Linked DNA regions of Homo sapiens. The protein of the gene in region 4 purifies or fractionates together with the protein of the main gene of each other region. This does not show direct contact. Each region holds a gene or a part of one and is shown on either strand. Other genes may lie near its edges.

Evidence for each region.
Region 1: the proteins of FGF8 (region 4) and AP3B1 purify together in Homo sapiens (affinity purification with mass spectrometry; 2 studies listed by BioGRID and IntAct, with this or other methods). This does not show direct contact.
Region 2: the proteins of FGF8 (region 4) and ANKRD17 purify together in Homo sapiens (co-immunoprecipitation; 3 studies listed by BioGRID and IntAct, with this or other methods). This does not show direct contact.
Region 3: the proteins of FGF8 (region 4) and DDX24 purify together in Homo sapiens (affinity purification with mass spectrometry; 2 studies listed by BioGRID and IntAct, with this or other methods). This does not show direct contact.

The regions. Positions count from the first base shown.
Region 1 is NC_000005.10:78,001,200-78,005,202, forward strand, and holds the end of AP3B1 (AP-3 complex subunit beta-1), read right to left. Parts: intron 1,857-4,003; coding exon 1,703-1,856; 3' UTR 1,127-1,702; downstream 1-1,126. UniProt on the Homo sapiens protein: Subunit of non-clathrin- and clathrin-associated adaptor protein complex 3 (AP-3) that plays a role in protein sorting in the late-Golgi/trans-Golgi network (TGN) and/or endosomes.
Region 2 is NC_000004.12:73,087,170-73,095,299, forward strand, and holds part of ANKRD17 (ankyrin repeat domain-containing protein 17), read right to left. Parts: intron 7,060-8,130; coding exon 6,910-7,059; intron 5,132-6,909; coding exon 3,498-5,131; intron 1-3,497.
Region 3 is NC_000014.9:94,057,203-94,064,202, forward strand, and holds part of DDX24 (ATP-dependent RNA helicase DDX24), read right to left. Parts: intron 5,420-7,000; coding exon 4,895-5,419; intron 3,865-4,894; coding exon 3,711-3,864; intron 3,412-3,710; coding exon 2,896-3,411; intron 696-2,895; coding exon 620-695; intron 1-619. UniProt on the Homo sapiens protein: ATP-dependent RNA helicase that plays a role in various aspects of RNA metabolism including pre-mRNA splicing and is thereby involved in different biological processes such as cell cycle regulation or innate immunity.
Region 4 is NC_000010.11:101,769,019-101,773,654, forward strand, and holds the end of FGF8 (fibroblast growth factor 8 isoform F precursor), read right to left. Parts: intron 2,559-4,636; exon of another isoform or gene 2,552-2,558; coding exon 2,445-2,551; intron 1,679-2,444; exon of another isoform or gene 1,602-1,678; coding exon 1,311-1,601; 3' UTR 1,091-1,310; downstream 1-1,090. UniProt on the Homo sapiens protein: Plays an important role in the regulation of embryonic development, cell proliferation, cell differentiation and cell migration. Required for normal brain, eye, ear and limb development during embryogenesis.

The DNA.
Region 1 (4,003 bases), on a different chromosome or scaffold from region 4:
GCATGGATATAATTTTTTTTTCTTCCTCAGAAAACAGGTATTAAACCTGTCAAATTCTGTCTGACATTTCAAAAAGTTATTGACTTAAAATTCAAAGTTATGAAGCTCTGAGCAATAAGGCTAATATGGAAATGCCAACGACCTGCGATTACAAAGGGGCTTTTGGGTGTGTTACCACAGCGCCCAGGCTCCAGAGGGAAGTGGAACTCGTGGCTTCCATACATTGGTACAGAATGGTACAGAATGTACACATGGTACGGAATTGGCACAAAATGTACACGTGGCTTCTGTACATTGCACTTCTGTACATTCTCTTCCCGGAGATTCAGGGCTATATTTCTTTCTGGAGCAGGAAAATTTAACAATTTTGTTTACTCTTGTCATCCCACCAGCTTGAAAATTTAAATAATTTTTCGACTCTGTTTTGTTCTTTTCAATATGTATGTTCCAAGAAAATTCCATTCTTTTCTTTTCAGCCTTCCTATAATGCTTCAAGCAATGTACAGTCACTTCCTTTTTACTTTTTAAAAATCATTATGTATGTGGCTCTATACAAAAAGAACTGAGTAGCTTATACTACCTGAAAGTCCATTACCTTGCTTCAAAAAGGAAGTAAAATTTCAGCTGGTTTTAAAAAGGTACGAAAGTATTAGAAAAGTTCTCTGATTATAGAACAACCTTGAAAACAGTAACTTAAGGTAGCAAATAAAACAAATACTCTAGGAAAAGATGCTAATAGGTTGATCATATAACTAGTTTTAAACATTTCTATAAGTTTATGCTAGTTAGTTTCCAAAGTTGGGCATAAGGAAAAATGAGATTCAAAGAATTTATTCAGCAGGCCACATAATCAGATATCTACTAATAGATCAAAACTACCTAGAAGATGTTTATTTTGCAATATGAAGATTTTTGTTTTTGTTATTAAATACACCAATTTTTTTTCCTTGGAGTAAACTATAAGTAGAAAATTTACTTGGTTTGGAAGTGGTTTTTCTTTCGCTAACTAAACCACATTGCTTCTCTGCATAATGTAACACTCAAAATACTTGCTTTAAAATAAGAAAACTTTAGCATATGAACTTCAGGATTATTAATAGTTTCTCATTAAAAATGCAAAGACAAATATGATTCATATGCTAGTTTATTTATCTTATTATTGAGAGATAATTTCATGATGACAGTTATCAATAATCAATTACAATATCAAGAAATTCAAAGAACAAAATCTTGCAGAGACTATGCTTTTGTATTTGGATTTAAAAAGTATGTGATCTCATTTTCACATACCAAGCTGAGAGGCCATTTAGACTATCTCTTTGCTAATTTTTGCTTACTGCTGTAGGGAAGAAGATTTCCAATGAACTTTAAATATCTCATTCATGTCTACCATTGTCGAAAAAGAGAAGGAAAACGAGGAGGCCAAAAGAAGCAGCAGGACAGAGAAAACGCCACATGGATTCAAGAGTTGAGACAACTGACAGTAAAATATATGCTCTTTGGTTAGCAAAGCAAAAAGGGGGAAAGTATTGCATACATGATAGATACACACTAGCATTCTAAAGCAGGAGACAAGAATGTCAAGAGTGTATTCTACCCCCACTGCCAGATGGAAGGGCTATTATTATAAATGAAAGGCAGCAGTAGTGGATGCCAGGCACTTTTGTTGTGTGCCAGATTCTAAAGTCCAGATGTAAGCAGGTTACCCCTGAGACAGGACAGGCTTCAGTTCCCGCAGCAGAACAGAGCCAATCACAGTTTTCTCAGTGTTTATGATAAGCTGGGCTGTAGAGCCTTCCTTCAGTTCCACTGTGACTAGCATCAATGACCCACTGTGCACAGTTTTAGCTGCAAACCTGGAAGAGAAAAAAGAGAGACCTTTTATCATAAGATGGGGAGGGTAAAGGAGATAGCATACATTCAAATAGGATTAAAATAACTCTTTTTTGTCAAATGAAATAATTTGCTGCAGGCTCCCTATTGCCAAAAACCCAAAGCCAAGCATTCTTCTGAAAAATCAATAAACTGTCCAGCCCATGCTAACCACAAGCAGGTAATTTTAGTGCACATTTAAAACAGAACAGAAAAAGGAAGTCTATTTTACTTATTAGTTTAAACAATAGATGCATGTGAATAATTCTCCATTACAATATATTTGAGAACCATTCATCCACTTGGTATTTAACATTTCACCATGCATAGGGACATTTTAAATAAGCCATTGTATTTTTATTTTTAAAACATGTTAAGAAAAGGTACCTTTCTCAAAGAGCTTCAAAATTTAACTCCTCATATCTGAAAATGATTATGTAATAAGTTAGATAATTTTACGTACATTATAAAATTCTTACTAAGTTTCAATGAATTCACTCATGTAACAATATTCAAATTAAATCTCTAATGTTAATGATGACATGAAGCAAAATCACGTGACAGCTAAGTGCAACCTCACGCTTCCCTTTTTCTTTGTTTTGAAATGTTTAGGACATTAGATCTTTCTTTCTGTAGAGTGTAAACAAAAACATTTCCAGAGGAAACTGGAGGTCTAAAGCTCTAACTCTAAATTCCAAGACATGAAGAACCTACTGATTACACGGAACTAAAAGCAAAACTAGCCTTTTAAGCACTGCAATTGACTGAAAAGCCGTTGCAGGCATAACGAACTTCTGTCAATCCTGCTAATTCATTCTGCATGCACAGTTGAGCCTCAGGGTCATGAAGGAAGAGGACAGGAACCTCCCAAGCCTCCCTTTTCCACATGAAGCATGTTCCACACACTTTTTGGGGGAGGGGGTTTGATTGCAGGGATGACTGGAGAAAAACAAAGTTGCTGCACATGAGCTTTTGAAAACACTAACAAGTGTAGAGCAGGTCTGTGACCTGCTGTGACCCCACTTTGCAGGGCCAATCCCCTTGCCCCTTTCTATATGACACGTGTCTGAATCTGAGCCATCTGCCTCAATTTGCGCAACATCTTCAGCCACAATGGCACCCAGTTAGCCCTGACAACAGCTCACAATACATAAAAATAAAACTGCCGCGCTAACAGCACGCTGCGGACTATTCAAGAGCAAACCAACTGGTCAGTGTCTCATGTCTGACAATTAGCATGGGCCTCGCACAGAGCCCACGGTGTCCACAGGGATCTGTTTAATTACCATCAACATAAAAGAGGGAGTTTATCAGGAGACACTCAGAAAAACTTCACTCCCGACTTAATTAAAATATTAGCCACTTAAGCAGGAAGCAGATTCTCTTTAAATGAAAAGTAATTTCTTTTTTGGGTTTTTTAAAAAATAACATCAAGATCTCATAACACATTAATTTTTTTAAAACCAAACAAGCCATTTTTGGACAAATAAAATCATGAACTAGGTTGTCCAACAATAATTAGAATAATGTATCCAAACCAAAACAGATATGCTAATTTTACTAAATTTCAAATATTATAAACACTTTGAAGTTGTGTTTTAAAATGTTAGCTAATGGGCTATCAACAAAATATGTTAGAAAATCTTCCTAGGCATTTGCTTGTGCACTCTACAAGCATGCTGAAAACTTGCAAGGAATCTGACAGAGCAGTATTCCTACTGAGAGAAGCAATTGTAAGTAACCAGTTTAGGAATATAAATCATACCAATGTTTTTAAAGAGGTTTTTATAAACCTCTTAACACACACATCCATCTGCTTTTCAGACGTACACATGAGAGATTATGAACTAGGTACCTCAATTTCATCTTTGAGAAACATAAAGATCACCAGCCCTAAAATGATCTCTCTTTTCTAAGGCTCCTCACAGGTTTATGCATTTCTTTTGTCTAAATTTTTCAGGCTCTTCTGCTTCATAGGAGAATGCTGTTTCTATATTCCTGTAAAACCACGTCACCAAAGGATATGAGGTGGCTCTATTTTCCCATTCATTTATGCAACTTTTCCCACAGATTCGGTCATCACGTGTGTAATTCACTCAACAAATATTTCAACAGAGGTCCCTATTTCTGA
Region 2 (8,130 bases), on a different chromosome or scaffold from region 4:
CCATCTACTGGGCTCAAGTGATCCTCCTGCCTCAGCCTCCCAAGTAGGTGGGATTACAGGTACATGCCACCACACCCAGCTTTTTTATTTATTTTTGTAGAGGCAAGGTCTCACAATGTTGCCCAGGCAGGTCTTAAATTTCTGGCCTCAAATGAGCCTCTTGTCTCAGTCTCCCAAAGTGTTGGGATTACAAGTGTGAGCCACCACATCCAGCCAATCTGTCATTGATAAAATGCAGTGTGAGGTTCAAAACATCACCTATATGATGCTCCTTCCTGAAATATTTGATCTGAATCTAATCATGGATTGACATAATCACTGAATTAAACTTGCCCACAGAGTCAATGTCAAGAATTACAGAGGAAGGCAGTAGAATACTTTAGACAGAGGGAGACCAAAGACACATAACAACCAAAAGTAATGTGTGAATCTTGATTGAGTCTTGGATCAAATGGCAAGGAAAAGAGACACACATAGTCAGAAAGAATATATTTGGGAAAATGGCATTTTATGTTGGGTGTTATTATCAAATTCATCCTCATTTTATTGGGTGCAGTAATAGTGGCATAGCTGTGAAGGCAAACATTGTGAAGATCCATATCAAAGTATTTAGGGGTAAAGTATCATGTTTGAAAGTTATCTTCTCATGATTTGACAAAAGATGGGGAAGAAAAGAAAATAGAGATAGGATAGAAAGGGGGAAAAGGAGGAAAGAAGGATGAAGAAGGGGAGAGACAGGTAAGACAAGACAAGAGAGGGGGAAGAAAAGGAAGCAGCAAAAGAGAGGAAAAAAAAGGAGGGAAGAAGGAAAAGGGGAGAGAGGAAGGGAGGGGAGTGAGGGAGAGAGTTTGAAAAGATGTTAACAAGCAGAGAATATATTAATAAATGTGGAAATACCAAGTATTTACTATGCTGCTTATTCTGTCCTTAGATCTTTATGTGACTTAAATAACTTTTCAAAATACAAACTATAAAAACAGATCTGAGTCTAAAATACAAATAATCAAATTATTTACATAAGAAAAGTTAAACAAAGGAAGAAAAATATGGAACACAAAATGAATTAGGAAGAAGTAGAGAGAAGTGAAAATTAGGATCTGAGAGAGGTTTAGGAGAAAATAAAAGGACATACTTCCTATGTAATAAAAGGAGTATCTTTAACTCAAAATGACCTGAATTAGGTAATTGACTTGTAAGTTAAACTTCAATGCTAATTTTGGCTCTCATCAACTATACACTCCCTAAAAACCTCACCTTTCTTACAGAGGTCTTTCTTCTATACCTTTTCAAAAAATAGGAATTTATTTTTTTGTTCTCTAAAGCTTAATTTTAGCCTTTCTGAATCCCACACCTAGATTATCACATTTTTGGAAAGGTAAAGTATTAAATTCCAACTACTATAAAAATCAAACTTAAAGCATTTCCTACGCACTGGCACATAATGATCTAAAATCTAATTATATTGATTCTATTGTTTTAATATAAAATAAATTATTTTTCATAGTACACATAAATATTTCAGTTGACTTTTAGCAAAGAATATTTACTGACCACCTTCATTAAATTTTATTTACATGTTACAGAAATAGGTAAAAATAACATTGAGTTCCCATTAAACTTGGAAATTTTTGTCCCGGAATGTCATATTTCCAATAACACAGATAACGAGTTGGCAACCAAGAGCCAAATACCAAATATTTTAGGCTTTGCAGGTCACATGGTCTCTGTCCCAGCTACTCAATTCTGTCATTGTAGCATAAAAGTAGCCTTATACAATATGCAAATGAATGGGCATTGCTGTGTTTCAGTAAAGCTTTCTCTACAAACACTGAAATTAAAATTTCATATTTTGTGTTGCATGTTTATTCTTTTTAAATTTTTTTTTTTTTTTTTGAGACAGGGTCTCCACCCAGGCTGGAATGCAGAGGTGTGATCTCAGCTCACTGTAACATCTGCCTCTAGGGCTCAAGTCATCCTTCCACCTCAGCCCCCCAAGTAGCTGGGACTACAGGTATGCACCACCATGCCCAGCTAATTTTTATATTTTTGTAGAGATGGGGTCTCCCCTTAAGCCCAGGCTGGTCTGGAACTCCTGGGCTTAAGCAATCGACCCACCTCAGCCTCCCAAAGTGCTGGGATTACGGGCACAAGCCACCGTGCCAAGCCTATTCTTAAAAAAAAAAATTTTTTTTTAAACATTTAAGAAATGTAAAAACAGGCAGCAGGCCAAATTTGGCCCATAGACCATAGTGTGTCCATCTCTTACGTGGACTATCTTTAATTACTTGAAATGCTTATATTAAAACCCAACAGCTTTAAATGGAAACTGGCATCCTGGATTAGATCCTACAATAGAAAAAGGATATTACTTGAAAAACTTGTGAAATCTGCCTAAAATCTGTAGTCTAGTTAGTAGTACTACACCAATATTAATTTTTTTAGTTTCGAAATGTATCATGGTTATGTAAGATGGTCACATGAAGGGAAGCTGAGGAATTATAGAATTCTTCTATAAATCTAAAAATATTTTAAAGTAAAAAGTTTTTTTTAAAAAAGCAATAGCTTACAATCAGGAGATCTTTGTATCTTCTACATATATCAGTGTTGCCCAGTAGAATTTTGGATAATAGAAATGTTCTAGATCTTTGCTGTCCAATATGGTAGCTACCAGCCACAAGTGTTTTTTAAGCACTTAAATATGGGTAGCCTAAGAAGCTAATTTTTTTATTTTTAAAATTTTCATTAATTTAAATTTAAAAAGTACACATGGTTATTGGCTACCATATCAGACTGTGTAGCTCTATTTTTAAAATTATTTTAGAAATAAAAAAGATAATGCGAAATGAAACCCAATTTTTTAAATCTGTTATTTTGTATTTGTAATAAATGTAAACTTTTGGTGACAGTACCTTATTAAATTAAAACATGAAAGACTTCTGAGAGAGAAAAACACGCCTAGGCCAGGAACTGTGGCTCACGCCTGTAATCCTAGCACTTTGGGAGGCCAAGGTGGGTGAATCACCTGAGGTTGAGAGTTCGAGACCAGCTTGGTCAACATGGTGAAACCCCATCTCTACTAAAAATACAAAAATCAGCCAGGCATGGTGGTGCACGTCTGTAATCCCAGCTACTCGGGAGGCTGAGGCAGGAGAATCACTTGAATCTGGGAGGCAGAGGTTGCGGTGAGCTGAGATCATGCCACTGCACTCCAGCCTGGGTGACAGAGCGAGACTCTGTCTCAAAAAGCAAACAAACAAAAAAACCCCGCCTGATCAGAAGACTTATTTATGGAAAATTAAATAAAAATCTATGGTAGCTTTTAAAAAGATTTTTAAAAATAACACCATACTAAACACAAACAACAGCATCTGAGTTAACTAAATCCAACAATCTTTGTCTATATCGTCCAGAGAATAAAAATATTAGAAAATGACCAAGAATTTTCACATCACTTGTGCAAATGAACAGCTGCAGAATCTCAGAAAATATAAACTCACCTGAGGGACTTGGAGCAGGTCTCTGTAATGGTGGTCTAAAACCTGGAGCTTTGGAAGTATCAGACTGATGTAAAGGATCTGAATTTGGCAAATATGAGGATTTTCCTGATAGCATAGATTCTGGTGTTGACTGAGATGAAACAACAGATCCTCCCCAGAAGGCATGAGCAGAAGTAGGGCTGTTTTCAAACAATGTGCTAAAGGGCCCAAATGGTAAGGGGGCACTGAAATTGGGAGCAATAGGCTTATTTGCTGGATGTACTGAATTCTGACAAGCACTTTGTGTACTTAAGGTCGAAGGTAGCTGGACAGAAGAGGGAACACTGTGAGGTCTTTTAATGTGATTGACACTGAGGACTGCAACAGATGAATTTTGCACTGAAGCTGAATTCTTGTGAGGGGCAGTTGTGCCATGAGGGGGTGGTCTAATAGCAGGGGTTTCCATTTTAGGAGTAGGCTGGGGGCATCCCATTGGTGTCTGAGGCATAGGGTAAGTCACTGGGGCAGTAGAAGGCACCGCCACTGGAGCAGAACTTGTTGCTAAAGGAGGAACAGTCATTCTAACTTCCGGGGGAGGAACCTGAGACTGCTGAAGAGGTGGTCTTGGTTCCTGAGAAACAGATCCCGGAGGTTGTTGCTGATTAGAATGAGCTGATGAACTCCCAGAAGAACTGCTGCTGTTTGGAGGTCTAGTGTTTGTTGTTTCTACTACTGGTGGACTACCTGCTTCCTGTTCGGAGGAAGATGCCACTTTATTTGGAGATGCTGATCCACAATCCAAAGGGCTGTTTCTAGAAACCCCTCCTGGCTGGGCTGGTGGTGATGGGGAAGATGGGGATGATACTGGATAGTGTTCTTTGGCAGTAGGCATAGGATATGTGGCATTTGTGGGTGCAGTGTTGTTGTTGCTTGCCGTGGTTGTGACTGTTGTTGTGGTGGCATTGGATGTCTTCACAACTGTGACAAAAAGCTGCCTTCGGACAGAAGGTGAACTTGGACTGCCATTTGTAGATGTACCAGGCACCGTTGAAGCTGATGAACTGGTTGTAGTTGTTGGGCTTGAAGTTAAAGAACCTGCTGAATTCACCTGAGAACCACTGCTATTCTGATTGCTATGGCGAGGCACCATGTGAGGCTTAGGCGAGTTAGTAGCTCTGGCAGGGCTCAAAGGCCTGACAGGAAACGGACCCCAAGTGGATTGAGCTGGTGGAAAAGTACCTCCAAAGTGGGTCATGGGCAACCTTGGTGGACGGATCTGCTGGAAAGTCTGAGCAGCAAGCAAAGCATGTGCAAACTGTGGAGGAGGATATGCTAATGGAAGAGAAACTGGAAAACCAGGCCTCACATTATTCACTGGGTTCTTAATGGTTTTGTGAGTGGATGCAGAAGAAATTGCAGGCACAGTGAGTGCTGTGGCAGTTTGAGATGTTGATGACAGAGCTACAGTTGTCATTTTAATTCCCATTAAGGAAGTGTTAGCAGCAGTGGTGGTAGGTGCTGATGACCCTATTTTGGAATTTGCTGAGGAGCTTTTCAAACGATTCTTTGGAATAAGTTCATCAATTTCTTTGTCTGGATCCTTGATCAAAGCATTAATCAATTGAGTTGCTTGTCTTGTTGATTCAGTGCCACCCCTATAAATTGAGAAAAAAAAATTAGGTAGAATTTTCCCTACTTTTGAGTATGTAAAGTGTTTTTAATATGTATTTATGTACACAAACACACACACAGTTTTGTGTGTATATACATACACACATACAAACAAAGGACAGATAACAAAAGCTGGGCAGCAATTTTCTTACCATTCCTGAGGTATTCTACAAACAAAGCAATAAACTGTCCTGAATTACTACTTTTATTTTTCAGAAGAATAGTAAATGACTTATTTTTCAAAAATACATTTCACTATTGTTTCCTTAGACTAAGAAACCATTTTCCTACTGTAAAATACACTACAGTTAGAAAAACCACTGCACATAAAAGCCTATGTAATCCACAATGTTATTGAAACATTTAATCCTAAAAATATTGAAACAGTTAATCAACACTAAAAATAATAGAAGTAAACAAGGAAAATAATACAACTGAGTAAGAAAACAGTATTTTATTTTAAATCTTGGTATCTGGGATGACTCCGTCTACTAAAAATTCATTAGTAGTTTGTCTATTAATAGGATAATTATTGTAACTCCTCTGGGAAGATGTCTTAAAATGATGCAGGAATCCTGATAGTGCCAAAAATAGCCATATAAAACCTTAGTGCTGGATCTTCAGGAAAATATTTGATATTTATGGAAACTCAAGGGAGCAATTACCAATAAAGGGTATCTGGTTCCCTCTTTTCTAGATAAGATAGGCTGTGACTACCCAAATACCCAGGGGAAAACCAGTCAGAAGGAGAGGACGATGAATAAAATAGAGATGGCTACTTGCTTTCTTATTTTTGAGGTATGATGTAACTATTAGCTCTCCTATATAATGCAAAGGGGCATCTGCCTCATACAAACTTATATCTGCCATGTAAAAAATATAAAACTCTTTTTCAAAGGAACATGAATTTACTTTAAAGTAATTAAATATAGCTTCCTACATTCTTATGATTTCTTAGAACATCACTTTTATTTTAAGAATATTCAGGCATAGACATATTCGACGAGTTATTCAAGATAAGTTATATCTTCACTTCAGATTCAAATCTGAACTCAAATTCTTTTTTTTTTTTTTTTTTTTGAGGGAGTTTCACTCTTGTTGCCCAGGCTGGAGTCCAATGGCTCGATCTCGGCTCACCGCAACCTCTGCCTCCCAGGTTCAAGCAATTCTCCTGCCTCAGCCTCCCGAGTAGCTGAGATTACAAGCATGCACCACTATGCCCGGCTAATTTTGTATTTTTAGTAGAGACGGGGTTTCCCCATGTTGAGGCTGGTCTCGAACTCCTGACCTCAGGTGATCCGCCCGCCTCAGCCTCCCAAAGTGCTGGGATTACAGGCGTGAGCCACCGTGCCCAGCCCAAGAACTCAAATTCTAAAGACACAATCTCAGAATAACAAATCTCAAAGGTTATTTGAGAAAGACAAAAACCCACTGCTTAAAATGTTAGAAATGCGCTCCCTAAAAGTCTCAGAACAAATTTTTAAGAATGTCATATAAACAGTTTATGTACAGAAATTATTTATTTAAACCTTTGCTACACATGCATACAAATTCCTATAAAAGTCTCTGAAACACTTCACAAAAGTGTATTACCTAGGAAAAAAGAAAACTATAAAATTTATCTTCTCAAACACTAATAAAATTCCCATTTTAAAAAGTATACTATGTAACACAAAGTTCCACTGAAAACTCATATGGCTGTATTTCATTAAGCTATAGTGCAATAAAATAAAGGAAGAAAATGTAAGAGACAAAGTTTTGCCTTATAGTGATTATCCGGTCTCCAGTCTTGTCTTTCTGTTTATCAATATCTATGTGTGCACCAGTAAACTCCCGAATAGCATTGATATTACAGCCTCCTCTTCCAATCACTCTGGATATCACAGTTGATGGAACAGATACTTTCTTTGACCTGTTTAAAAGTTGTATATATAAATTAAGATTAGTCATTAACAATAGTTATTGTAATTTTTAAAAGAGGAAAGAGTATTACTAAAATGTCTTTCTATAAATACAGAATATTGTTGAATAAGCCTCTTCTATTTACTCTTACTCTAGATGAACAGAGAAAAGGCAATCAGGAGCAACAGACAGATAAGCTTTATTATAGCTTCTCATCTCACTATCAAAGATTGTTTGCTTTGTTGATTATCATTCTTCACTTGTATCGGTAAAGCACATACTATGTAGACACGTGCTGTGCTAATGCAAATACTAACGGTAAATAAGACAGACATGGGTTTCTGCCCACATATATTGACTATCTACACGCTAATTATGAAAACACCACCATGTCATGAGTGTTGCAATAGTATGTGTGTACACACACACAAATGTATTATATATACATATATGTATATATAGACATATATATGTATATACGTATAATATATACATGTATATATGTGTATATATATATATTATATGTGTGTGTGTATATATACTGGTTGGGCATCTAATCTAGCCTCAAGAGTCAAGAAAGACTTCTTGTGGGCCCCTTTTGGTGCTTTACTCATATGCTTCTTTTTATTCTCTAATATACATAACTCAAAGAGTGATGTTAAAAATTCATGACTGGGAGTGGTGGCTCATGCCTGTAATCCCAGCACTTTGGGAGGCCAAGGCAGGCAGATCACTTTATGTCAGGAGTTCGAGACCAGCCTGGCCAACATAGTGAAATCCTGTCTCTACTGAAAAAAATACAAAAATTAGCCAGGCATGGTGGTGTGCACCTGTAATCCCAGCTACTCAGGAGGCTGAGGCAGGAGAATCACTTGAATCCGGGAGATGGAGGTTGCTGTGGACTGAGATTGCACCACTGCACTCCAGCCTGGGTGACAGAGTGAAACTCCTTCTCAGGAAAAAAGAAAAAATATTCATTACTTCCCTGTATTCTTATAGTAGCATTAAAATGACCATCCACAAATATGAAAACTTTCTAAAAATCTTTAATAATGTCCGGAAAAAGAAAATCCTACTAGAA
Region 3 (7,000 bases), on a different chromosome or scaffold from region 4:
AGTCTGGCTCCGGTGCCCATACTCCTAACCAAAATTTTATGCTGATATTCACTAGATGCACACACTAATATTACTGCTACTATCAATGGCAGTTAACATGAGTAAGTGCTTGCAATGTGCCAGGTGGCTTCTTAAGCTCTTTATACTTAGTAACTTATTTTACCTCAGTAAGAACCCTAAGAAGCAGGTACTCACTGCCATTTAATACATGAGAAAACTGAGATACAGAGAGATTACATGACTTGTTCAAGGTTACACAGCTGGGATTTGAGCCCAGAGAGATCTAAACTACCACACTCTTCTATTAATACTTCTCTACATCAGGGTAACCAATTACATGCTTAACTTATGCCCATTTCACAGAAAAAACTAAGACTCTAACCTGACAATATCAAGTAGCTTGGAGAGAAGGGCTACTTGACATGAGACAAAGCAAGGTTTTCTGGAGACCAAATCTCAGCAGTGTTGCAAAAGTGGGAGTAGTGGGCACTCGATGCCAGTGGTATTCTCTGATGCAAGAGCCTTGGAACCAACAATTCCTCCTCCCTCCCCCAACCTTTGCCTTAAAAATTCCCCATTCAGTGCAGGCAGATGCCTATAAATTTTCAGATGCCCCTACCTGGTAATGGATGACATGCTGGACTTTAGGAATATCCAGACCCCGAGCTGCCACATCTGTTGCCAAGAGAACACAGCTGGGGTAGAGAGAGAAAGCTTATTAATAATAACTAACAGCTATCTTTAATCAAATTCTTACCAACTGCTGAGCATCCTAAACATTACAGTCCTTACCAATACTCTGTAAGATATCACTTGTATACCCTTTTACAGAAAAACTGAGGCTCGGAGAGATTAACTTCCCAAGCTATCTACATGGCTATTCAGCTGTGGAGTCTGGATCCAAATTTGGGACTCATTGACCCCAACCAACATGCCATACTCTGCAATGATAAAGACTCCCTTCAGTGAGTTAAATGAGGCCATACATATTCTGGGTCAGTGACTCCTCTCCTAGCACCCTCTCATTTACTTCCTCCCAGTGGCACACAGACTTCCTTGCTCTTCCCCAAACAAACCAAGCATGCTCTCACCTCCAAGCCTTTGCACTTGCTACTCCTTAAGGCCTTAAAGGGTCTTGCCTCAGATGTCCATATGACTCACTTCATTACTTTCTTCAGCTCTCTGCTCAATTCTCACTTCATCAGAGACTGACCACACATACCCAATCTCTTTTCTCCAACCCCTGCTCGACTTACTTCTTAGGATCACTTGGCAGACTGTGGGCTTACTTTGCAATTTATTATCTCCCTCTACTAGAATGTAAGCTTCATGAGAGCAAGGACTTTGCATTACTCACTGCTGTTATTACCACCACAGAGAACAACATCTGGTTCATGGTAAGCACTTGATAAATGTGTTGGATGATGTTTCTCAATGTGTGGTTCATGGAAAGTCAAAAGTACTTGAGGTGCTTCAAAACATAAGACTCTGGCCCTTCAGGGTCCTCACTCCCTGCATGTCTGAGCTGAGGCCGGGAAATGCAATGCAAATCCTAGTTTGTAAAACATTAAACTACTGCTCTGGATCAAGGTCAGCAAACTTTTTCTGTAAAGAGCCAGAGAGCATTTCCAGCTTTGTGAACCACACAGTCTCTATGGCAACTATTCAACTCTGCCGCAAAAGAGGATATTGACAATACATAAATGGGTCTTGCTGTGTTCCAGTAAAACGTCTACTAAAAAAACAGGCAGCAGCCAGGTGTGATGGCATGCACTGGTAGTCCTAGCTACTTAGGAGGCTAAGGTGGGATTGCTTGAGCCCGTGAGTTCAAGTCTAACCTGGGCAACATAGCAAGACCCCATCTTAGAAAAAAAAAGGGCAGCAAGCAAGATTTGGCACGAGGCCTATAGTTTGCCAAGCCTTGTTCTAAGCTAATCTCAGTAAACCACTGATACTACTTACCAATTTTTAAAAACCAGTAAATCAAACACTTGTTCTAGAAACTAATTACCCCATGACCTGACAAAACACTGGCAAAAGACACTTTGTAGTCTGCCTCAACTTTCCAGGCCCTCATCTTGACAATCTGCACCCCATTCCCTGAGCATCAGTCTGGTCCAAAGGCAGATGGACAAAGACATCAGGAATAAGAAATAGCATGGGCTCTGAGGTCCGACAGGCTTGTCTGAGGCCCAGCTCTACCACTTCCAGGCAGAGAAACCTTGGGCACACTGATCAGCTTTTCTAGACCTCATTTTTCCATCTATAAATGAGAATAGTGATAATGGTAATAAGTAGTAAAGGGACTAGAAATTATTAAAGCTAACATTTAGCAATATATACATACTATGTGCTAGAGACTGTTCTAAACACTTTACACGCATGAATTTACAATCAATCTTCATAACAACCCTAGAATGGGTTCTATTATTATCCAAATAATGAGAAAATTAAAGTACAGAGAAATTAAATAACTTGACCACCTAAGGAGTGACAGAACTAGGATTTGATTTCAGGCATTCTGGTTCCAGGATCTGTGCTCTTAACCATGAATCTATTCTGCTTCCTCTTAAGGATGTTAGGAGAGTAACTGAATGTGATTCTGAATCTAAAGTGCCAGCACAGGACCTAATCTATTGTCTATACATTCAATATTATGTATTGTCACCTATATTCATTAGTATTGAAGTTTCTGTATGGCATTTAACTGCAACCAAATTCACTAAATGACAGTAACCTTGCCAAATGCTGTGCAAAAAAAAAAAAAGGCTACCTACTACTGAGACAAGGCCCCTATGACAGAAGGTGGCTTTTCTACCATTTCCCCACCATCCTGACCCCTTTTACCCCAGTAACTAACTAGAGGTTAAGCCTCTGGGGACAGTCCTAACTTACTCTTCCAGACGGGCAAACTGCTCCAGGTTTCTGAGCCTCTGCTTCTGGTGCATACAGGCATGCAGGGTCAAGGGCATGATATCAAGGACTTTGAGGAGCCCAGAGAGGCGTTTGATGCAGGAGATACTGTTGGCAAACACTAAGCTGCGGCCTGGATACTGCATCAGGAAGTAGTACAAGTAGAAGTCTTTCTCATCAGTCTCACAATGGATCTTGGTCTCTGTTAGCGTCTCCACCGTGGCCTCATTCCTTGTGAGGTCAATGACCTTGGGCTTGCCCCTCATGCCAATTTTCTGCATAAGGAGGTCAAGTTTGGCTGTTTTATCCATTTTCTTGGTGTGCTTCTTATGAAGGATTCGAGCAGGAGCCTGATGCACCAGGGTGAGTGTGGCAGAAAAAACAAGCGTTTGTCTCTTTGGGTTGTATTGGGAGTCATTGAGCATCTCTAGCAGCTGTGAGAGCTCAGCAAAATGGCCTTTCTCAACCATCCGGTCAGCCTCATCCACTACCAGGCACCTGCAGATCCAGAGAGACCCATATCATTGGTCAGCAGCGGGTTAAGAGGAATCATCTATAGCACACCCTACACTCATCCTAAACACACACACACACACACGTACACACCCCACTACCACCACCACCATCAGGCCCTCAACTAATCTCCCTCATGCACTCTTGGCTTTCTAAAGGCCAGGGTCTGGATGATACCACACCATAGCATTCTGCGATGAGAAGAAGGCATTGCCCACACCATGTCACCTAAGGCTCATTTCAGAAAAGGCAGTGAGGGGGAAAAGAGAAGTGCCATCTATTACCTGAGCTGCCGAAGGTTCCTCAAATGATAATGCTTTTCTTTAATTAATTCCCACAGCCGGCCTGGAGTAGCAACCACAATCTCAGGACGACGGTTCAGCATCCTCTGCTGTTTCTGCGTGGACATTCCACCAACCAAAATAGCAGTTTTAATTCCTATGGGACAGAAAACATAAGGGACACTTATTCAATCTGGGTGATCATTTTCTTACATGGCTGACACAGGCACCCCAGATTAGCAGAGACAGACATCAGCACAGTGTAATGCCCTAGAGCATTGCTAAAAGAGCAGGCCTGGCCAGACTGTTGACGCCACTCCTAGAGGGCTTACCAAGTCTTCTGTGATCTGAGCTCTACTTCTTCAGCCTCATTTCTTTTCTACTCCCTCCCCTCCAACCACACCAAAGGGGCTGAATTTGAACCCAGGTATGCTTACCTCCAAAGCTCTGGGAAAACGGAGCACTGGGGCACCATAATGCTGGGAGGAATATGACCTGCAGCTGTGCTACACCTCTCCTAGGAAGCCCTTCCATTCCCTCAGTTAGAATTATTCTGAAAGGTCCACTAATGCCCTGTTGTTTTCGTCTCTGGTGCAGAAATTCTCATAGTATCATGTGGGTAAAGGGCTTAGCAATAGTAACAACTTGGTAATTAATTGCTGCTTTCATTATAAAATTAAGATTCCCAGAGTGAAGCCCTTCCCAGAGTGAATTCCCTGAGAGAATTAAATCCTAATAGCTTAGAGCAGGGATCAGCCAACTTTTTCTGAAAGGGTCACTAGTGAACATTACTGACCTCATAGGCCAGATGGTCTCTGTCACAACTATTAACTCTACTCAACTTCACCTTTGTAGTACAAAACCAACCACAGACAATATAAAACCAAATGGGTGTGGGTGTGTTCCGGCAAAACTTTATTTATAAAACCAGACAGTTTGCTAATCCCTGCCCTGAGCATCTACTGTATCCAATAAATTTCCTATGCATCCACAATGGCACCAACCATGTATTATCCTTGAGGGAACTGAAAAAATGTCACTATATCAATTTTCTGTAGGGCTTAATTGTCTGGCTTATAGATGAGAGTGGCTTACCCTAGAGGGCAGGAGCCACAGCTCATTCATCTTTACCAACGAGCATTTGGGATTTACCTAGAAAATATTTATTAAATGGAACTAAACCTCACCTGTAAACCTGGCCACAGCATCAATGTGCTGTTTGACCTGGACGGCCAGCTCTCGAGTGGGAGTCAGAACCAGTCCAAGCAGAGGACGCTTTGGATATGCCTTACAGGTGGCGCTTTTGTCATCCAACTCCTGTTTTAGATTTCCAGTCTGCTCTTTATCAAGATTTTCCTCCTCATTCTCATTCTGTTTGGGAACAGGTTTCTCCCTGATCAGGGAAGAAGGCCCTTCACCAGCATCATCGTCACCAAAGAGCAACGCCTGGTCTGAGACAGTGCCTCCAGTCTTGGCTCTGGCCTCGGCTGCAATATCACTGGGCAGTGCTTCACTCTCAATTACAGTATCGTCAGGCAATGCATCAGACTCAGCTTCAGCCTTGCCTGGTGATCTAGTCTCAGCTCCGGCCTCAGTTCTGGTCTCTCCAGGTGGTGCTTCGGTGTTACTTGGAGGAGGGGCAGCATTCCTCTTCTGCCACTGCAACACCGCATGAATCATTGGGATGGCAAAGGCAAGAGTTTTCCCACTTCCTTAAAAGTAAAAAAACAAAACAAAGTAAAAACAGTGTGAATCAACAGATGAACATACTTTAGTCTGGAATTCATTCTTTTGCATAGAATAAGGTAGCCAAGTGCCACCCTGACCGACCCAAAGCTCCTCCACTCTACACAGATTTCCCCAGAAGGAACCAGAAGGCACATGTAAATTAGAACCCGAGGAAAAGTATGGCAGGCTAGCACTGAGGTCTTAGGTCACCAGTAACGAATTACAAATGTCCAAGAAATGAAACAATAAAGAGAGAAAGGGCAAGTTTTGGGTGTATGTGTTGTTTCTGTGAGGAGCAGGAAACAGTAATCCATACAATACTTTCCCAAGACTTTTCTTTGGTGAGAAAGGAGTAAAAGAAAATTTTCTTAAGTTTTCAGAAAATGTAAATATAAAACTTTTGTCTATGCCTGAACATTTTCAAACTGGCCTTTGAATGTACACAGAGTCCAAATCATCTGGGTGGTCAAAACAAAACATCTCAGGCTGAGAATTTAAAGAAGTTCCAAAGTGATAATGCCCTAGGCAGAAGCCAATAAATGCTTTCTCAAGGGAGAAACCATTACCATACATCTCCAAAAATTTTCACAATTTTCAAAGGAAATAAGCAGCTCTCAGTAAAAAATAACCACACACACAAAAATAAGATACTATAAGGAAAAAAGAGAGCAAAAACAGACACATGAAACTTTTGATAAGAAGAACAGCAGACTTATCAGAAACAATGAAAAGCCAGAAGACAGTGTAGCAATATTTTTTATTTGAATGCCTAAAAATAAAACCCTGACAATCTATAACCCTACACCCACTCAAAACAAAATGTGAAATAAAGACTTTAGGCATATAAAAGCTGAAATAATTCACCAGCAGCAAATGTAAGCTATCAGAAATATTAGTCTTTCATGCAATAGCAAAGATAACATAAAATGAAAATCTGGATGTACCCAAAGAAATAAAGAGCAACCGAAACAGTAACTACGTAGGTAAATATTTAAAAACTTCTTTTTATGGCCAGGCATGGTGGCTCATGCCTGTAATCCCAACACTTGGGGAGGTCTAGGCGGGAGGATCAAGACCAGCCTGGGCAACATAGTGAGACTCCCATCTTTAAAAAAATTTGCCAGGCATGGTGGCACACTCCTGTAGTCTTCGAAACTTGGGAGGCTGAGGCAGGAGGATTGCTTGAGCATGGGAGTTTGAGGCTGCAGTGAGCCATGATCGTGCCACTGCACTCCAGCATGGGTGACAGAGGGAGATACTGTCTCTAAAAACAAACAAAAAAACAAAACCCCTTATTTTTCTTATTTAAACATCTTTAAAAATAATTGTTTAAAGCAAATATAATAAAAATGTATTCTAGAATCTCTAACACATATGAAGTATACAACAAAAAGCACAAAGGAGGGGAGAAATGGAAAATACTCTTGTAAGGTTCTTACATTGTATGCGAAGTAGTAAATTACTTGAGGGTAAACTATAATAAAAGATATATACTATAAACCCCAAAGCAATCACTAAAAAGACGTTAAGAATTATAGCTAATAAGACAACAAAAAAGATAAAAT
Region 4 (4,636 bases):
CACACCATGACCTGCTCCACCACTCCCACAGCAGCCCTCCCTCCCTCCACATACGGCCTCCTGCTTCTCCCCAAGGCTATGACTGCCTTTAGTTCTGCGCTAGGCCTATGAGCTTCCCTTCTGGTGCCATCCGGTGCCCAGCTCCTCTCCCGCCAGGCCCATCCTCCGAGGTGGGCAGCCTCTTCCTGGAAGACAGTTCCCCAGGCTCCTCACCGCACCTCAGCTCAGTGCTTTCTGCCCACAGCTATCTCACCATATCACCCAAGGTTAACACTTGTCCCACATCACCATTGTCAACACCAGTCTTGGTGGTCCCCCTCCAATATGCCCCCACCTTGGACCCTGGCAGCTGCTCTTTTCTTTCATTTTCTGGAGCCTGAGTCTCAGAAAGAGCAAGTTCTGGAATCTCCAACCTGTCTCCCACATGGACCTAGGCACTCAGAGAAGCACTTTTTAAGAGGATTAAATCCATGATTACAGCTCTAGCCCTAGCACATCCATTATTTCTGGCCCTGAGGTGGCCTGGGGAAGTGTTAGCAATGACCTCTGTAAAGTGCTAGGAGGTACACATCTGAGAGCTCCAAGGACTAGCTAAGAGCCTCTTCTTGCCCCTTTCCCTGCTTCTGTCCTTGCAGGAAAACCCCTCAAGTGACAGTGATGGGGATGGTTGACAGGCAGGTGTCTTTAGGCTGGAGGGAGGCTGTGGTCAGAGCTGGCACCTGGTCATCTGCGTCTCCCAGCCGCCCACCAGCTGGGGCAAGGTTGGAGGGAGGGGCTGACCCCGGCAGGACTCACTCTCCAGCACACATTTTTAATATGCAAGTTAAATAAATATTTCAATCATTTAATAGCCACCAGTCTGATACCCACTTCTAAGAGGACTGCCCTATGTCACAGTCCTTTCCTCCCTGCCCCACCTGGGGGTGCAGTGGAGTCCCTGGCTGCCCAGCCAACTGGCCCTGGAGGTACTGGGGCCTCAGCAGCACAGGCTAGAGAAAGCCCCCCACCCCCGCAAACCCCCAGCCGGAATCCCAGTCTAGGCCACTAATGGAGCTTTCTGAGAGTTAAGAAGACAGACACCACAGCCAAGTGGAATACAAAAATAGAGCCTCTCTTTTGTTTTAAAAAAAAAAAAAAAAAAAAAAACAGCAAAAACCCAACAGCAAACAATATCAACAACCGGAACCCAGGGCTCCCCCAGCACCTCCCCAGCCTGCAGAGCAGCGCACAGCTCATCTTGCTTGAGTTTTGGGTGCCCTACAGGATGAGCCTCTCTGCGGTCTGGCATTGTGGGGAGGGCCAGGCAGCACCTATCGGGGCTCGGGGGCCCAAGTCCTCTGGCTGCCGCGCAGGCTGCGCGTGAAGGGCGGGTAGTTGAGGAACTCGAAGCGCAGGCTCTGCTCGGTGGTGTGGTGGCCCCGGGGCAGCCGCTTCATGAAGTGGACCTCACGCTGGTGCTGCCGCGTCTTGGAGCCCTTGCGGGGCCGGCCCTTGCGGGTGAAGGCCATGTACCAGCCCTCGTACTTGGCATTCTGCAGCGCTGTGTAGTTGTTCTCCAGCACAATCTCCGTGAAGACGCAGTCCTTGCCTTTGCCGTTGCTCTGCAGGTAGGGGAGCCAGACACCACGTTACAGAGCCCCCCCAGCAGAGGCAGAGGGCGAGCGGCCCCAGACAGCAGGTGGGCACCCCAGCAGATGGCGAGGTGGGCAGGAGCCGCAGCCCCACCCCCTGCCTGGGCACCCGCTCTCTAATCCCTCACAACTCGCAGCCCACCCGGCAACTTCCTGTCCTCCCAGGCAGCAGTGACACATGGTTGTCTACGGAGGGGCTGGGCCCCAACGCAGAAAGACAGAGAGAGGGGCCCAGAGCCTGGCCTGCTCTGGCCTCCTGCCCACCAGTCTGGCCACCCGTCTCCCCACCTGCCCCTCTCACCCCCCCAGGACTTCGGTTCCCTGGCCCCAGGGCAGCCACCCTATGGGGGAGGGGAGGCCTGGGAGAAGATGCTAAGACCCCAGCCCCAGAAGCCCAGGAAGTGGGGAGCTCGAGGCTGGAGAGGAGCCGTGACTAATGGAGCCATTTCAGAGCTCGGCCGAGGGGCTGGGCCTGCGGCTTACTGAACATTCCAAATGCTGGTACCATGTAATTGGACATAATAGCAAAGCAATTTGGCGATTTGTTAAAAAGATATATGGAATTTACCAACCACCACCCCCCAGCCCCTTCCCTAGCCTTCATTCTTCCTCCTTCGCCTTTTATAGTTTTCATCTCTCAAACAGCTTCCTTCTCCCTCACTCCTGCACCCAATCGTGAGGTAACCCCAAGATGGCCCTGTGGCCTTCTGCCTACCTTGTTGGGATCAGAGCCCAGGACTGTCTTGGAGGAGTCCAGCCAGCCCAAGCCACTCCCTAGGTCCCGCGGACCCCACCTGCCTGCTGGGGCCTCACCTTGGCGATCAGCTTCCCCTTCTTGTTCATGCAGATGTAGAGGCCCGTCTCGGCTCCTCGGACTCGAACTCTGCTTCCAAAGGTGTCCGTCTCCACGATGAGCTTTGCTGTCAGAGAAGGTAGCAGGATGGCTATTGGCAGATCCCTGACCCCAGCTGGCCCACACACTTGTCACAGCCCAGCAGCAACTGCTCCAAAGACCAGGAACCCAAAACATGGACTCCAGCTCCAGCCCAGCTACTAACATGCTGTGCAACCCAGAGAAAGGGCTTTTCTGGACCTCGGGCCCCACCCCTGGGTTTACAGAGGGCAGTGGACGGGATTATGGTTTTCAAACTGGGTTCTCAAGAGAGGTCTTGGGACTATCAAATTGAAAAGGCTGAAGTGCCATTCCTTCCACCCTCTTTTTAAACCAGACAGTGATGTCTCTTAGATTGAGGATCTAAGTAAAATTTAATTGAATCAGAGTTCCATAGCTAATCAAAAGATCTCCGAGGATCCTTCCAACTCCAAATATTATGTGTGCGTGTCTCACAGGTCATTACAAACACTTGGGTGAAGGGGTGACCTCCAGTCCCAAGGCCAAAGATGAAAGCATTGTCTCCTGTTTCTGCCACTTTGGGTTCTAACTCACAGCTTTGGCCACCCCCAGCCCCTCAACATCACCAGGCTCTGCTCTGCTGAGAAGGTGCTAGGGATGGGGACAGCTCTCCCTAAACACACAGCCCAAAGCAGGCTGCTTTCCCAGAACCTCAGACACCTGCCAGGAGGATCCTGCCTCTTCCCTGTGGCTTCCCAGTCACCAGGGTCCCCAGCCCAGTGTCTAGAAATCAACAACTCAATTGTCTTTTCTCTTTCAGCCTCATCACAGCTGGGCTTCTCAGCCCAGTGACCAAATAGCTTCTGTGGGTGAGGAGGAGGGAGAATCCTGCCTGCTGGCCTCTTAGACTGGAGGCCAGGAGGCAGGGCTGAATTCTATGCCTCCTTTCCCATTCCCCTCCCCTTAGACAGCCAACTTGCCACAGAAGCCTGTCCTGTTCACCTCTCTGTGCAATCATCTCTTATAGGCTGTCCTCAAGAAAGTAGTGAGGGTGACTTCACTGTTTAGGAAGGGACAGAAGGCGCTGGCTCTCCTGCCGTCCCTGCCGCAGAGCCCAGCCTCTCCCCTCCCTGAGAAAGCAGTTCTTGGACTTAGCCTGCATTGACATATGGCACCTCCTCTGTCCCTGAAACCCATGGCAGGGGTTTGGGGCATCGAGGTCAGCAAGTCAGTCATCACTGCTCAGCTTGTAATGTTCCCCGCTTCACACAGGCTCAGTGCTGGGACCAGTGGCCAAGCCCCCGGTTTGGCCCCAAGTCAGCAGGGAAATGCAGCTGTCACCTCCCTGCCTGCCCACCTCCTCCTGGACCTAGCCAGTCTGCTCATCCCTCTCCCGCTCTGCCTTCCACAGCAAGAGGCAGCTATTTTTAAGGGCCAGGAAGGATGCTGACTGGAGGAGTGAGAGGATGCCACTCTGGGGATTCTGGCCAGATGCGGCAGGCAGGGATGAAGTAGGTGCCTCTGCATCTTCCTGGGGCCGGTAAAGAAGCCATTGAGACCTCTCTGCTATTCTCCCCGGACTACTCCTGTCCTGGCTGAACACCCTGAGCCTCTGTTCTTAGGGCCTCCAGCTCCTATCCTGCTGTGGGGCAGGGACTAGGGAAGGCGGGAAACCTCTTATATGGCCACGGAGAGAAGTGGACATCAGGCTTCCTCTGATGTCTGAAGATGAATTCCCCCACACCAGCTTGACTTCTGCTTCCCTCCCCGAAATCCAAGGATGCTGGGCCATTTGCTCTGACAGAGCAAACCCTGGAAGAGCCAGGCATTCGTCTCCTCTCCTTAGAAGCTGAGAAGGGCAGCAAGCAGCTAATTTGGAGGGACAAAGGGATGGTAGGCCTGCTCTGCCAGCCCAGTAGGGGAGCTCGGCCACCAGGCAGGCCGCCCCCACCCCCACCCCAGAAAGCCCGCTCTCTCCCATGTCGGTTGAATCTGCTCCGATCTGGGGAGCTGGGGCCGCAGTTTACGGCAGCTCTCCCGACCGGGCTTTTGGAAAGCTTAACATTTTCAAACCTATTCTTCCACCCCAGTGACAGATTTATCCCAGGAAAATTATGTCTCCTCCAGCTTTGAAGGGAAGTCAGCTACGTCG